Linked DNA regions of Homo sapiens: region 1 is linked to region 2. A link means that fine-mapping ties the variant in region 2 to the expression of a gene that starts in the linked region. Tissue or cell type: Th1/17 cells. Region 2 holds a variant in brackets; the other region holds the start of a gene. All regions are shown on one strand. Distances are between the middles of the regions.

Region 1 (8,000 bases), 120 kb before region 2:
TAAATTTGACAACATTAAACACATTTAGTCAAACCTTAAAAAAGGTTTCATCACATTTTATGTTTGGTTTGAAAGGTGCTCCCATAGGACACAACTATGTTTAGTAGGCTAACTTTGCTTTTACAATTTTCTCCTTTCTGATTTAGAAAATAAAGACAAAGAAACCATCCCAATCTGACAGCCTAGAGGAAATCCGAAGGCTGAAACGAGAGTCCCCTAATGATGTAAACACTCCCTTTAATAAAGCACAAAAATAGTGTCAAGTTTTCATGAGTGGTGACATGTTCTGAGTGTAAAACAATGTTAGTCTATCAGGAACTAAGCTGCTCAGCTCTAGAAGATTCTATGTTGCATGGCCAGTGTCACTCTAAGGGCCAAGGCGACAGGGAGGCAGATCTGCTGCTGTGGCTCTTGTCTATATGGTCACCTTGCTGCCAGTAAGCTAATTTCATGAGAAACTTGATCTAACTCAAAAGTTGTGCGTGTGGTCTCTTCCCACAAATCTAGAGTCCACCTGCAACCCTGAACTGGGTAACATTGAACAAATTACTTACCTTTTGTTCTTTAATCTTAATTTTTGAAACTGTAATAAAATATATATAAATTCATCATAACTGTTTCAATTAGTACAGTTCAGTGGTATTAAGTACATTTGCATTGTGCTACCATCACCACTCTCCATCTGCAGAACCCTTTTTCATCTTGTAAAATTGAAACCCTGTACCCATTATACAGTAATTCTTCATCTCCTCTGCTACCATCATTTTACTTTCTGTTTTGATTAATCTGACTACTCTAGGTACCTTATATTAAGTGGAATCACACCGTACTTGTCCTTTTGTGACTGGCTTATTTCACTTAGCACCGTGCCCTCAAGGTTCATCCATGTTATAGGATGTGTTGAACTTTTTTCCTTTTTTAGGGCTGAACAATATCCCATTGCATGTATATACCACATTTTATGTATCAACCCATCCATTGATAGACACTTGGGTAGTTTCCACTTTTTCACTATTGTGAATAATGCTGCTATGAACATAGGTATACAAATATCTCTTTGAGACCCTACTTTCAATTCCTTGGATACACATCCAGAAGTAGAATTGCTGGATCACATGGTAATTTTGTCTTTAGTTTTTTGAGAATCCACCCTACTGTTTTCCATAGTGGTTGCACCATTTTACATTCACACTAATGGTGTACAAAAAGCTTCCACTTTCTCCACACCCTTGCCAACACTTACTACTTTCTGTTTTTCTGATAGTAGCACCCTACTGGATTTGAGGAGCTTTTTATTTGCATTTCCCTAAAATTGGTGATGTTCAACATCTTTTCACATACTCACTGGCCATCTGTATGTCTTCTTTGGAAAAATGTCTGTTTAAGTCCTTTGTCCATTTTAAAATTGAATTTTGTGTTGTTGTTGAGTTGTAGGAGTTCTTTTTATGTTCTAGATATCAATCTCTCATCAGATATATAATTTACAAATATTTTCCCCCATTCCATGGGTTGCCCTTTCACTCTGCTGACTGTATCCTTTGATAACTACCTAATTTTTTTCTCACCTGAAGTCTGGGCATCACAGCAGCTCTATTGGGATGATTAGAAGATAACATACAGAAAATACAGTGTCAAACAAAGTTCCTCTCTCTTTGTAGAGGAGAAAGTCCCTCCCACCATTACAGGAGTGGGATGAAGAGTAGGGGCAACTAGCAAGGATTCCACCAGTCAGTAGAGTTTGAGATCAATAGACTTAGGTTTGAAGATGACCTTTGCCACTTCCTAGAGAGACATTTTGTTCTCTGGGCCTGAATTTTTTACTGGAGGTGCCACCACAAATGGTGTTGTTAAGAACTGAGAATGGGTGTCGTTAAGGACTGAAAGTGCCAAGCACTGAGCAGCTAGCTCCTCTATCCATCTATTCATACACTCAACAAATACCCAGAGTGCTCACTGTGTGCCAGACAGTGTTAAGTGCTAAGGAAACAGACAAGAACTGCTATGCTTACAGGCCTTACATTCTATTGGAGGAACGGGAACAGACACAAAATGTATAGTCTGTTAGACGGCAGAAAGGGCTATGACGAAAAATAATGCAGGGAAAGGGAAGAGCAGAGTAGGCAAGTGGTCCTAGAAGCCCACTAAGGAGGAACTTGGGCAAAGGCTGAAGGAGTTGAGGGAGCAGGCCATACAGTCACCTGGGCAGAGGGTTTTACAGGAGGAAGAAGCAGGGAGTGCAAAGGTCCTGAGGTGGATGTGTGCCCGTGGTGCTCTGGATGCAGCAAGGAGGTCAGGGTAGCCAGAATAGAGGTGAGATCAGAGAGGTAACAGGAGACTGAAATGACCCCTCCAGGCCATTTGTAAAGACTTGGTTTTTACTCTGAGTGAGATGGGAAGCTATTAGAACCTGGCACAATAAAAGGTGGCAGTATTATTGAAATGTCTCAACTCTAAACTTGTTTGAAAACTCCACAATTATCTTTTTAAAAATTCAGGCAACTTAAAACACTTCTGCTTTTGGATGAAATCGTATCCACTTATGGCAGTGATGATATAATTGGAATTTCTGGGCTAGCACACTGTTACCAATGATACCAGAGCTGTGGCTCAGGAGTTTATTCATCCATTTATTCAGACTTGAGGATAAAAGACAAGAGTGACACATATAAGAAGCTCAAGGATAGTGGAGGAAGACAAATATACATAAGCACAAAAAGTCACTAAAGCACCATGACAGACAACTGTATCATGTGCAAAATGACCTCACAAAACAAGGGAGGTGAACTGAGCTTTCAGGTGTGTATGTTGGGTAGGGGACAGAGGGAAGTACCTCCTTTTGGCTGAAAGGACACTGCATGCAGAGGGAATAGCTTAAAGAAAGGCCCAGATGTTGAAATATGATGGCGGTTTCTGGAATATGCAGGTGGTTTAATAGGGCTGAAGAAGGGATGATGTTATAGCTAAAATCAGCATTGGTCTGATCATGGGAGACTTTGCAGGCTATGCTAAGAAAATATACTTTATCTGAGGGAAATGGAGAACATTTGGAGGGTTTTAAGGGTGACAGTAGCATGACTACATTTGCACTTTGCAAGAATAATTTTGACAGCAGTGTGGAGCATGCACTTGAGAGGTGTAAGGGGAGGGTGGAAGGAAAAGACAATTCAAATATGAGATAAGGGCCAGAGGCAACACAGTAGCAATTGGGAGAAAAAGGAGACTAAGAACAAATAGACATGTAGGTGACACAAAGTAAGAGCCCAATAAATAAGTTATATGTCAGGAGAGATCTAGAATAATTTTCCAGTTTCTAGTGACTATTTTGCACTACGTACACCATTTTGGAGGGGTAAGTAACCCCTCCCTTTGAAGAGGGATGCCGTGTTGAGTTTTTTTTTTTTTTTTTTTGAGACAGAGTATTGCTCTGTCGCCAGGCTGGAGTGCAGTGGCACAATCTCGGCTCACTGCAACCTCCGCCTCCTGGGTTCAAGCGATTCTCCTGCCTCAGCCTCCCGAGTAACTGGGACTACAGGTGCCCGCCACCACGCCCAGCTAATTTTTGTATTTTTAGTAGAGACGGGGTTTCACCATGTTGGCCAGGGATGGTCTCGATCTCCCGACCTCGTGATCCGCCGGCCTCGGCCTCCCAAAGTGCTGGGATTACAGGCGTGAGCCACCGTGCCCGGCCATGTTGAGTTTCTGATATGCATTTAGGCCATGTTGAGTTTTTGATATGCATTTAAGATCTCTGTGTGAAATTCAATTAAAGATGTACAGACAGCTGAACAAATGGGTCTGAAAATCAGGGAAATAAATTTGCGTTGGGGATTTAAATTTGAGACTATAAATCATGAAAGTGGTGAGATTGTCTAGGGACAATATTTACCATGAAGAAAACATTACTAGAATAGAATCTTGAAGAACATCAACATTTAAGGAGTAAAATGAGGTACAGACCTTGCTCACCAATGTGTCATTAACGCCTAGCTTGGTGCCTGGAAAAAACTGGATGCTCAATAAATGTTTGTGAGGTTATAGATCGATAGAGGAAGAGAGGGAGGTAGAAGTATTTGTCATAAAAATAGGAGAACTTGAAGACAAATAAGGTTCTGGAAGAAAGGAAAGTTTCAAGAGAGTGCATTGGAGAATGTCAAATGCTACCTTGATCAAAATGAAGACTAAAGAGAGTTCCCTTGATTTAACAACCAGACCGAGAATATAGCAGGGTCCTAGCAAAGAGAAGTTAACGCCTGAACTGACACTTGAAGGACAATCATTTTACAAACAAGAGGAAACTTACTACGTGCCTAATTAACCATGTCAGGTACACTATGGTTAATTCCACAAATGCTTGTTAGTTAACGAGGAGACTGGCAGATGATAACGCTGCAGACCAGGACCCTCCCCACCCTTATATTCCCCTACCTCAGCGCAAACTCTTTCCCCCAGCACCACCGGCCTCTTATCCAGGCAGTCCACGCCGGCCCAGGAACGTTCCCAGAACTACGGCTCCCAGCAGGACAAGCGCCAGACAAGCCTGGACTCAAGAGGATAGACTGGGCAAAAGCGCTTCTGGGAATCGTAGTTTAGGGCGCCGACCTCAAGATCCAGGCTGGGCACGCTACCCGACCAACTCCTTACTTGAGCTCTTCAGCCGAATACATCCCGAAGGAAATGCCCTGCAGCCGCCGCCAGGGCATGTTCTTGGAGATCAACATCCTCCAGGTCCGTTTTGAATTCCGACACCCCAAGAGACGTTCCACTCACCACCTGACTATTCTTAATTCAACCTCAAGCCCGGAGTCACCACGCGATTCAACGTGCGCTTGCGCGCGGAAGCGGTCGCAGGAACGACATTTACGTGGATGAGATCACTTCTACATGGGGGGGGAACAAATAGTTGTACGACTCTCTGCTCGCTCTTTTGTTTTGAAAACAATCAAAGATATATAAGACATCAAAATAATCATTTAGGAAAATTCCTCCGAGGCAAATCGGGTGTATAGAGCTTTTAGCTTCCGTGACGAAGTCTTTCAAACCATGAGCTTGCAACCTCCCATTTTATGATTGCTTTCGTCTTCTTCCGCTTCAGCCAATAGCGGAGCTGTTCCCTGCTCCCCGCCCACTGCGCCCCACCTTCCTGAAGGTCGAGGCACGCTTTCCCAACATGCTCTGCAGAGAAATCAAAGATGGCGGTTGTATCTGCTGTTCGCTGGCTGGGCCTCCGCAGCAGGCTTGGCCAGCCGCTGACGGGTCGGCGGGCGGGTTTGTGTGAACAGGCACGCAGCTGCAGGTAAGAGACGCTTAGGGTATCCGCGAAGAAGACCGCGGAGTCACCTTAGTCCTATGTTTCCCAGCTGGCTGTGGAAGTAGGCACGATGAAATGGTTTGCTCATGCGCGCCCTTAACGGTCGCGTGCCCTTAAGACCAGGTACGCGGAGGTGGCCCTTTGAAATAGGATTCGCAACGCATTTATTCATTAGAGAAATACTTATTGGTTGCTTGCAATATTCTGTAGTTAACACCATCCGCAAAGCTAGGACCCTGCTCTCATGAAGCTTGCGTTCCAGTGAGTGTGGCTATTAGCAACACTACCCCAAATTAAAAATTATCCGCCATTACTCATTTTAACCCAATCAGGAGGAGCGAGGAGAACGTACAAGATCTTCCCAAATAAAAGGCAGTCTCTGGTCGCCACCGTGGGGACTTTGGCTAAAGAAGTTATCAGGTTTTCGTAAAAGCAGAAAAGTCTAAAAGATCTGACTATGCCCTTTTGATCTGTGATAGTTATAGCTTGGAACATGTATGACCTATCTGTGTAATTTTTTTTTCACTCAGTACAAACAGTGGCATTGTGGGAATATGAGAGGCAGTAATTTGTAGTGAAAACTTGCTAAAAGCCTAATTTTAGGTTTAGTGTTTGCCATTCACTTAATTGGATGATAATAGACAGATTTCCTCATCTGCAGACTAGAGTTGGTAATAACCATCCGAAAAGTTTGTGAGGTATAAGTGGGGTATGTAATTTACAATATGTTTTTATATGTACTCTCCCTTAGTTCCCCTCAAGAAAGAGAAACCACTCCATCTGATACTGCAGAAACCTTTGTGCTGCCATTCAATGCCAGTCCTCCGTTTCCTGGTAGCCATCGTTAGCATTTTTCTACTCATTTTCTTTGCCTGAAGCAGAATCTCTTCCTCAGCATCCGTTCTCAAAATAACTGTGATCTCTGTTTTAAGGTCATGAGAAACAAATAGTGTGACTTGAAAGAGTTGATCTCAGAAACTTGAAAGAGTTGATCTCTTTCTGAAATGTCCTTAACGTAGAGGGGTATTCTTGTTTTAAATGATACCTGAAACCAGATACTACTGGAGGAAGTATCTGTCTGTGCAATCACATCTTGACAATTTTCTGAATGTTACTGATGCCATTTAGTAAGGGGAAACACAAGATAATACTAACCGTCACATTATCTGTGGTGTGTTGACTGTGTTTTTAGTGTGATCAGAACACTTAAACAGAACACTTAAAAACTCAGTCATGGGCCAATGATTCTATATTTTGGTTTAAAAAGGATTTCATATTGAACCTCTGAAAATAGAAAATATCAGCAATTCCAAGTCTAAATCAGGCCTTATGTATTTGGTACATTCTTGATTGTTGAAAGAAGTGGAATGAGAAGCCATGGGTCATCTTCCCTATGTTGTAATTGCTTTAAGTGAGGTAGTCCTTTCTGATCAGGGCAGTATCTGTATAGAAGCAAGAGCTCACTGAATTGTTCTTTTAAACATCATAGTGTTTTGGGTTCCTGAAGTTGAAAGTTCTTCATTTCAAACCAGATTGTTCAAGTGCTATTAAAAACTTTCCTCCCTCTCTGCCATTTATGTAATGAGATTGCTTGCTTCCAAAACTTTTGTCTAGCCGGGCATGGTGGCATATGCCTGTAGTCCTAGTTACTCAGGAGGCTGAAGCAGGAGGGTCACTTGAGCCCAGGAGTTCAAGGGTTCAGTGAGCTATAATTGCACTACTTCACTAAAGGCTAGGCAATGGAGCAAGACCCTGTCTCTAAAAAAAAAAAAAAAAAAGTTTTGACAGTCTTGTCCATATCTTGTATCCATTCCTTAATGATATTGAACATGTGTACAGACTGTCTTCTCAGCGTTCATTGACATGAGTTATCCAGTTTAATCCGTGATAATTGGAGAATTTGGGCTCAAAGTACACATAGGTGGAGGTGAGCTGGGTACTTCATTAATGACTATTAGATTTAAGGCTTTTGTTTTTTTGCAGATTTTATTCTGGTAGTGCAACCCTCTCAAAGGTTGAAGGAACTGATGTAACAGGTATATTTTAAAATATATTGAATTCTATTTTTATATCAACACGTTGGATTCCATTGTAGTACTAGGAAACTGATTCATGTTTTCTTTTTTACATTAGGGATTGAAGAAGTAGTAATTCCAAAAAAGAAAACTTGGTAAGTATTCTATCAGTGTTCATTCAGCAAATGGTTGAGTGCTTACTATGAGAGAAGTGTAAGGGTTAGGTAAGGAGACAGTGACAGGAAGAGCAATAGGAGAGCATTCTTGAAGAGAGTAGCTGAGCGGGGAGAAGCTAGGAGTTTAAAGGACAAAAAATGGAAAGGTGGAGAATAGTGAGTGAATGAGCAATGAGATTTACTTAAAAGAACAATTGAAAGAGATTTTGAATTAGTGTGGGTTACTATTTACGTGGTTAATAATACATGGTTATACATGAACATCATCATTAGAATAATTTTTTTCAAGGAAGTTCTCTCATATGATTCAAGAGCAGACAGTTACTGTCTTTATTATCTCTAATGAGGTAAAAATAAAGTAAATGGTGTGGACAGCAAAATTTAGCTTTTTTATTCACTGGATATATCCTTGAACAAATTGCCTCATCTCATTTATTCAACATTTGTTGAATATGCAGGAATTAAAACTTCACAAAAGTGCTTGTTACAGTGTAGTCCTAT
Region 2 (8,264 bases):
TTTTCTTACTTTGATTTGCTACTTTAGATATATTTCCACAAGTAGACCTAACTCCTTTTTATATCAGGAAGGAGTATAAATGGAGAAATGAACCCCACAGAACATAGTCCCAAAAGAGGGGCACCAGGAGGAGCAGGAGAGTGAGTAGCTGGGTAGAAAATCCCATGCTCTGCCTCCTCCATGTTCTTGTCCCTGAAGATCTAAAGATTGGTGACCCAACAGGTCCTTACCCCTGGCAACAGGCCTGAAAGAGTATTGCTATCCACATCTTAGTACTCTAATTGGCTCCCAGAGACAATGTGTGTGGGAGGAGGGTCTCCCGCCCAAGGTCATGGCCATAACAACTTGCAAACCTCAGGTGATGGTGGCCACGGCCTTGAGCCTGCAGAGCTGCCACTATGATGCCCAAAGCTGGGTTGCTTCTAGGAAAGGGCAGGGTTTCTGCCGTCTTCCACAGCAGGGGAATGGGTGTGTGGCCTTGGCTGATGTTTCTGTATTAGCAAATGTGTCAGCAGGGCTACAGCAGCCAGGGCTGCAGGCTCCACCTCTTCTCTCTGTGGGGAAGGGAGGGAGGGAGAAACTGGCAGAGCCTCTCAGCCCTTTAAAGGCCTGTGTAGCCTGCAGTGGGCCCAGGGCTGCCGCACCCCTGCAGTGCAGCAGAACCTCCCCCAGGTTAGCAAAAACATCCCACACAGCACACATTAGCGGGAGCATTAATGGAAGGCAGCAAATGTCTGCAGAAGAGCACGCCTGTCTGGAACACTTACATCCACGTCCCCAACAGCACCGAGGAGAGAGAAAAGAACATTCCGTTAGAGAAGGGTCTTTGGCACTAAAACTCACACGTGTGCACCATGCACACATCCCCATCCACACACACTCACACACAGACACACTCACATACACACATGTAGACACACACATGCTCACTCACTTCCCATGCTCTAAACCTCAGGCAGCTCCTCCTGCTATAATCAGAAGGACACTGCCCAGAGGCCACACTCAAAATGCAATTCTCTCTCTCTCTCTCTCTCTCTCTCTGAGAGGACAAAAAGGATGACTGCTTTTAAAAATTATGTCCTACATGCTTGATTTTAAAAGGGGGGGAGGGACACCTCTATGACTAACCACACAGGCAGTAATCCAGAGTTCAGTTCTATATGACATAGAGGTAGGCAGAGAAAAAAAAAAAGAGAGAGAGAGATAATAATAGACACACAGAAAAAGAGAGACAAAGACATGCAGAAAACAATAGGGAATCAGTTGACAAATGGGGCAGGAACAGAGCAAAGATGGGAAAAGAATGTTCTGGCATCTGAGATGTGCAGCTTAGAATAGAGGCTGCTGCCCCTGGGGCCTCTAAGCTCTGTCACTGCCCTAAAAGGCACTTAGCAGCCTCCGAAATGCCTCCTTTCCCTACCCCCATCATGAATTAAGACCTGAATTTACAACTCCTAGAAAATGTTCCTGTCTGCTGAGGGATCCTGGGGCTCTGCATGGCCCCAGAGGTAATTTGAATCTTCCCAGGCTTTGGCCTGAGTGAGCACCCCTTGTGACAACATTTCAGGGGACCAGGAGGAAAGTGTCCCCGACAACTGTGAAATCCTCTTACTGCTTAAGAGTCAGCCTATAGCCCCAGGTGCAAGACAGACCTCCCCCAACACCATCTGCCACCACTGCACAATCCAGTAGAGACTGTCAGAGCTGGGAGGACCAAGGGACACCTCATGGAGGGGGAGACTGAGGCCTGCAGAGTGCAGGGGCTTTCCCAAGGCCTCAGAGGGAATGGTGTAGGCCAATCATCAAAGGGTTCCTTGCATGCAGACCTGAGAGCCAGGGCACAGGTATTAAGAGGCCCTTGGAGAGGCGGAGGTCCAAGAAAGGAAGGGCTAGGACAACGGCTTCCAGGTCTTGAGGCCACCACCAGGCCTCACCTGCTTCCCGCTGTCCAGCAACCCCCATCCCAGCAGCAACCAACCTGCTCGGGGATAAGGAACCAGAACTTGGACACTGAATCCTGGACACACTCTTATGCACATGCAGCCTTCCAGAACTATTCAGTTCCTACAATCAACCACAGCTCTATTGAAATGCACTGGAAACACTGTGTCTGATCATGAAACCACCAGATGTCATGGCAGGGAAGGGCTTCTGAGAGCAGCACAGAGCAGTGTCAGGGGAAGAATGGAGGACAGGGCAGCCACTCTCCCCGACCCCCAAGTGCCAATCTCCCAGAATTAGAGGCTTTTGGAATGGCTCACAGAATTTGCAGACTCAAAACTACAGTGTGAATAGACAGAAATCCCTGCAATTGCCTGGAGCCACTGGCACCACAGGGTCATTTCCCATGAACTAGTGTGTCCACCAGGCCAGCGTCTAGTGCCCGGTGCTGGAAACAGCTGAACGCAGCCCCTTCATTTCCAACTTGGACCAGGAGGCCCCACAGGGACACAGGGTTAGTCAGAGCTGGGCTGGGACGCTTCTCTCCATCTGCAGCCCTGCTCAGACTCCTCTGTCAGTTCAGTTTGGCCTTATGGCCTCCAGAATCCCCAGCTTTTTTGTTTTTTTAGATGGAGTTTCACTCTTGTTGCCCAGGCTGGAGTGCAATGGCATGATATCGGCTCACCGCAACCTCTGCCTCCCGGATTCAAGCGATTGTCCTGCCTCAGCCTCTCGAGTAGCTGGGATTACAGGCATGTGCCACCTCACCCGGCTAATTTTATATTTTTAGTAGAGATGGGGTTTCTCCATGTTCGTCAGGCTGGTCTCGAACTCCCGACCTCAAGTGATCTGCCTGCCTCGGTCTCCCAAAGTGCTGGGATTACAGGTGTGAGCCACTGCGCCTGTCCTAATCCCCAGCTCTTCTATAAAGGACTTAAAAAGCTGAGCACTGAGAGCCTTAAAAATAAAGCAATGCAGGGAAAACAGGACACGTCACATAATGCAGTTTCCTGTCTTGCTCACTGCCGATGTGGGAGGGGCATGTCATGCCTCCGCGGCACCAGGGCTGGAGCAAAAGCTATATTAGGCACCTTGCGTGCCTTCCTTCCTCCCCTGACACCAGCCAGCAGGCTGCAGGCCAGGCACGGCCCCTCTTGCCTTCCAAGCCTAAGGCAGCTTCTCTATGGGGAGCCAGGCAGTGTGAAAGGGGCACTGGATTAGTCCAGGACCCTCACTAGTCCCTAATGTGTCTACTTAAGGTTAGGCAACTGGAGAAGCAGGTCATGGCAACCACCAGGTGGCTGTGGCTCCAACAAGCCATCACTCACACGCTGGGAGGGCAGCAACAGGAGTCTCTGTCCAGAACCGGGAGACCTCCACTCTCCCTGGGGTCTCCTGGATGCTCCAGGCTATCACCACCACCACCACCACCACCACCACCACCACCACCACCATCATCACCACCACCACCACCACCATCATCATCATCATCATCCTCATCATCCTTCCCAGGATTATTATGGCCCTTTCACAGCCACTTTCACAACAGCACAGTGAGGCCGGGAAGCAGGGATCTCATCTCCGTTTTAAGAGGAGGAACTGAAGCTCACAGCGGTTAGGTGATTCACGCAAAGTTGCACAGCAAGTAAGTGGCAAAGCAGGAACAGGGCTCCCTTGGCTGCCCCAGGACCAGAAACCCCTGGAACTTCAGGACTTCATCATTTCAGAGGACCTTAGTCCTCTGAAGTTCCTGTGTCCTTACCTGGAGCACAAGGAAGTATGACCCTGTTGTGGCTTTTTCTTTTCTTTTTTTTTTTTTTTTTTTGAGACAGGGTCTTGCTCTGTCACCCAGCTTGAGTGCAATGGCACGATCATGGCTCACTGCAACCTTGATTTCCCAGGCTCAAGCAATTCTCCTGCCTCAGCCTCTCAAGTAGTTGGGACTACAGGTGCACACCAGCACACCTGGCTTTTTTTTTTTTTTAATTGTAGAGATTAATTCTTGCTATATTGCCCAGGTTGGTCTCGAACTCCTGGGCTCAAGAAATCCTCCCACTTCTGCCTCCCAAAGTTCTGGGATTACAGGCATGAGCCACCCCGCCCAGTGACCCTGTGGTGGTTTTAAGATATCTCCACACATTCTTTGATACTCCTCCCTTCAAGAGGTGGAGATTAATTCTCCTCCCCTTGAATGTGGGCTGTGCTTAATGACTTGCTTCCAACAAATAGAATAAGGCAGAAGTGATGAGTGTGACTTCAAAACCTAGGACAGAAAAGGTACCCTGGCTTCCTGCCTGCCCTCTATCTCTTGAATGGCTCACTCTAGGCCAGGCCACCTGCCACGTTGTAAGGACTCTTAAGCAGCCTTGGAGAGGCCCAGCCAACAGCCATAAGAGTGCCATCTTGAAAGTGGACCCTCCAGTTTCGTCAAGCCCTCCGATAACTCAGCCCAGGCTGACATCTTGACTGCAGCCTCTTGAGAGACCCTGAGCTAGAACCACCCAGTTAAGCTGCTCCCAGATTTCTAGCCCACAGGAACTGTAAGCTACTGTGTTTGCTGTTATAAAGGGTTAACCTCCTGACCCCTCCCTATGACCATGCAGCTGAAAGGGAGCCCCAGGGTCAGGTGCCCACTCCTGGTTAGAAGCTCTTTCCGAGTGAGAGTCCAGCACGCTGCGGAGAGGCTGGCTGCTTACTCACCTTTCCAGGTCCTGCAGGTGGAGCAGCAGGTACACACTGTGGGAATGGGGTAGGGGCACCATCAGTGACATCCCCCACTGGACAGGAACCAGCCCCGGGCAAACAGGGAGGCCCTGGAGAGGTGTGGGGATCCCAGTGTGTACAATATAGGGATCCCAGGAAGGTGGGTCTCTGTAGAGACACCAAAGTGGGGAAAGAGTCATCTCAGATTCAGTTTCTGCTCAGGTGCAGAAGATACCCTCACCTGGCACACAAAGTCAGTCCTTGCACCCTGCAGCCCTAGGGAAGGCCGGAGACAGAGTCAAAGTTCCCTCTGGAAAATAACTCCAAGCACCCCTGCCCAAAGCCTCCTCCTCTCTTTGCTTTCCAGTTCAGAATGTCCTCCAGGAAACCTCCCCAGACTTACCTCTGAACCCCAAAGTGCTTCG[C/T]ATCTGGGCATTTGCAAAGGCCTAACTGGCTGCTGCCTTGTACACGCCATTGGTCTTGGTGCACATCTGGGCCTTGGCAATAGAGTAGGTGCTCACTAAATACATGCTCACTGAGTGACTCCAAGTCCATGGAAGGCCAGGATCATTCTTTCAACATTTCTTGTACACTTCCTGGTGTCCAGTGCTAGGCATTCAGCATATGGTATCTGACTACACACCTTCCAGCTCATTCTGCAGGGAGGGCCATGTCAGTCCCTGCCTGCCCTGACCCTTTAAGCAAAGAGGAAAACTCCAGGCAAGAGAGAGGGTCAGGCCAAGTACACTGCCCAGCCCCATCCTGGGTGCTGAAAGCAACAGGAAAGAACTCTCCTTCCCCTTCTCCAACGCCTAGACCCTGTGTCCTCACTGCACATACAGAGGTCTCTGTGTGCCAGGCATGTGGTGAGTATGTTGGGTAGGCATTTACAGAGGGAAGCACAGAACCCTTGTCTGCCTGCCAGGAGCTTGCAGCGCTGAGTGACCGTGCAGGGACAGTCTTTGTGCCCCTTCCTCCCTTCCTCGTTTGTGTGCATCTTCCTCCCTTTTCTCAAGATGCAGGAGGTCACATGGATGTCCCTTCTTGGCTCACAGCAAATGGTCCACACTGGTTCATGGGATCCCCTTCACTTTTTTTTTTTTTTTTAATGAGACAGAGTTTCACTCTTGTTGCCCAGGCTGGAGTGCAATGGCATGATCTCAGCTCACCGCAACCTCTGCCTCCCGGGTTCAAGCAATTCTCCAGCCTCAGCCTCCCGAGTAGCTGGGATTACAGGCACCCGCCTTCACGCCCAGCTAATTTTGTATTTTTAGTAGAGACAGGGTTTCTCTGTGTTGGTCAGGCTGGTCTCAAACTCTCTACCTCAGGTGATCCACCCGCCTTGGCCTCCCAAAGTGCTGGGATTACAGGCGTGAGTCACCGCGCCTGGCAACCCTTTTTATGTGCCTTTACATGACTTTTATTCCCACACCCCACTCACATTCTCCTTCCTCCTCAAGGAGTGTCACTTTTAATATTTTAATGTGCAACTTTTTGTTTGAACATGTTCTTCATATAAACTCCGTATTGTTACTTTGCATGATAGGCATATATTTTTTACATAAATTGTTAGATAAAATCTCATTCTGTTTTGCACTTTTCTTCACCTGGCATCATGCTTTCAAGTTCCACTGTGTGCACCCTTAATCTGTTGCTTCCAGCAGCTGCAGAGAATTCCACGAGGTGCAGCTCCCACCTCTCTCCAGGTTGTCTTCAACCCCTGCCACCTGTCCAGGGTTTGCAAATTCTCTGGTTTGCTCTCCTCACAACCCTAAGACATAGGCTGAATAGGGACTATTCGGTCTTTTTTACAAAGAAGAAAGCCTGAGGGAATCAGGTCTGTCCTCTGTGCCAAGGCCAAATCTATGGTAGCGACTGCCTGGGTTGTTCTGAGAGAAGTTCTGAGGCTGAATTGAGGCTCAGGAGGAAGGAGCATGCCTTGCTGTGCTGCATTTGCTGTGTCTGCACAGGCCCGGCATCACCCAGCCAGGATGAAGTCTAGCCTCTTCCCCTTTTCTGGGGCCCTTTCTGCTACCTGATCTGGCCTGGCATCTGAGGCCCACACTGGGGGCTGAGCTGGGGAGAGTACACCAGCCCGGTATAAATTGGCTTCCTCTGCCAGACTTCCTCCTAGGCATGTTGACCTTACTTCAGGGTATGATAGCCCAAGAGCCTCTGACCCAGGAAATTCTGCCCCATATCCACGCCCCAGGCCATCTTTCACCTGTCTTCCTTTTTTTTTTTTTTTTTTTTTTTTTTTAAAGATGGAGTTTCACTCTTGTTGCCCAGACTGGAGTGCAATGGTGCAATCTCATCTCACTGCAACCTCCGCCTCCCCGATTCAAGCGATTCTCCTGCCTCAGCTACTCCATGAGTAGCTGGGATTACAGGCATGCACCACCACGCCTGGCTAATTTTGTGTTTTTAGTAGAGACGGGGTTTCTCCATGTTGGTCAGGCTGGTCTTGAACTCCCGACCTCTGGTGATCCACCCTCCTCAGCCTCCCAAAGTGCTGGGATTACAGGCGTGAACCACTACACCCAGCTCCTGTCTTCCTTTTTGAGATGGCTTTTATTTTAGGCTCCAGAACAGCTGGAAAGAGCACTACACTGTCCTTGGCCTCCCTGCTGGGTTGCACCTTTCCTCTTTGCCCCCTGTGGTCATAGGTGCGGAGGCCAAGGGGGCCAGCAGTGAGGAGGGCTGGGGCATAATGCAGCACAGCTGGTCCTCTCAGCCTGGGACAGCCAGAACACTCCCCACTGCCTCCCTGGGGCATGGCAGGGGACGTCATCACCTCTGCTCATGGAGAGTGGCAGAGCCAGTGCCAAAGCAAATCATCCCAAATGCTTTTCTACCTGATGCTGGGCTGGGAAGATACTCCAGGCCCAGAAGACACTGCCATCTCCCTGCAGACCCTGCCAGCTTCTTGCATTCCCAGTTCTGAGGCTGCCCTGAATAATTCACCAGGGGAGGTCTAGGCAGGAGGCCTGGATTCTGGGCCTGGGGGCCTCAGCCCAGTGCACAACCTCTCTGAGCCTGCTTCCTCCACTGGGCTCACCTCTAAAATGGCAACACAGACTCTTAGAGGCAAAGGGACGCCAGGGCCACCTAAGCCCGCTTCCTAGCCAAAGCAGGAATCCCTCCCTCGAACCTGACCATCCAGCTTTGGCTTGTGTCCTTCCAATGTCAGGGACCTCACTACCTCCCAAGATGGCCCATTTTGCTCCTGGACACTTGCAGCATGACAATGCGCCTTCTCAGGAGAGACAAATTACAAAAAGAACAATGATAACAGCTACTATGCACTGGCGCCAGGCATGGCCATAAGCACTTTCACATGGCTGGTTTCATTTGAAGCCTCACAACAACTCTACAAAGGGGTGTCATTCCTTGTGTAGATAAGAAATCTAGGGTGCAGAGATGGTAAATAGCTCGCCCGGGTCATGCGGCGAGCAAGTGGCTACCCCCTTCGAACTTCACCCCACTGGTTCTTGCTCTCTGCCCTCTGGGTTTTACTGAATTGAGGCCCCTTTTCCATCTAAGGGGCAGCTTTCATCTGAGGCTTGGTAGATGATGAGCTGATGCAGTGTGGAGATGAGACTTAACTCTGTTTTGTATCC

Direction of the effects. Alleles are on the strand shown, and positions count from the first base shown. SD is a standard deviation of normalised expression in the study named.
For the expression in Th1/17 cells of the gene that starts at base 4,828 in region 1, T is the high allele of the variant in region 2 and C is the other (large effect, 1.2 SD a copy in Schmiedel 2018).

Evidence for each region. PIP is the estimated chance that this variant, and not a neighbour inherited with it, causes the effect.
Region 1: POLR1A starts here. The variant in region 2 is fine-mapped to the expression of POLR1A in Th1/17 cells (Schmiedel 2018, PIP 0.95).

The regions. Positions count from the first base shown.
Region 1 is chr2:86,101,059-86,109,058 of GRCh38, forward strand. It overlaps POLR1A (RNA polymerase I subunit A), which reads right to left and starts at 4,828. Exons shown (of 34, transcript NM_015425.6): 1 at 4,642-4,828. The coding sequence starts at 4,718. PTCD3 (pentatricopeptide repeat domain 3) reads left to right here and starts at 5,177. Exons shown (of 24, transcript NM_017952.6): 1 at 5,177-5,293; 2 at 7,292-7,344; 3 at 7,442-7,478. The coding sequence starts at 5,190. It overlaps LOC124907852 (a long non-coding RNA gene), which reads left to right. Exons shown (of 2, transcript XR_007087121.1): 2 at 147-263. RefSeq lists enhancers at 4,348-4,437, 4,638-4,847, 5,228-5,487.
Region 2 is chr2:86,222,722-86,230,985 of GRCh38, forward strand. REEP1 (receptor accessory protein 1) reads right to left here. Exons shown (of 9, transcript NM_001371279.1): 7 at 4,642-4,677. Among named protein-coding and RNA genes, the nearest start is that of MRPL35, 27 kb to the left of the region's middle. RefSeq lists an enhancer at 7,991-8,264. The variant C/T (reference allele first, on the strand shown) is at 5,070.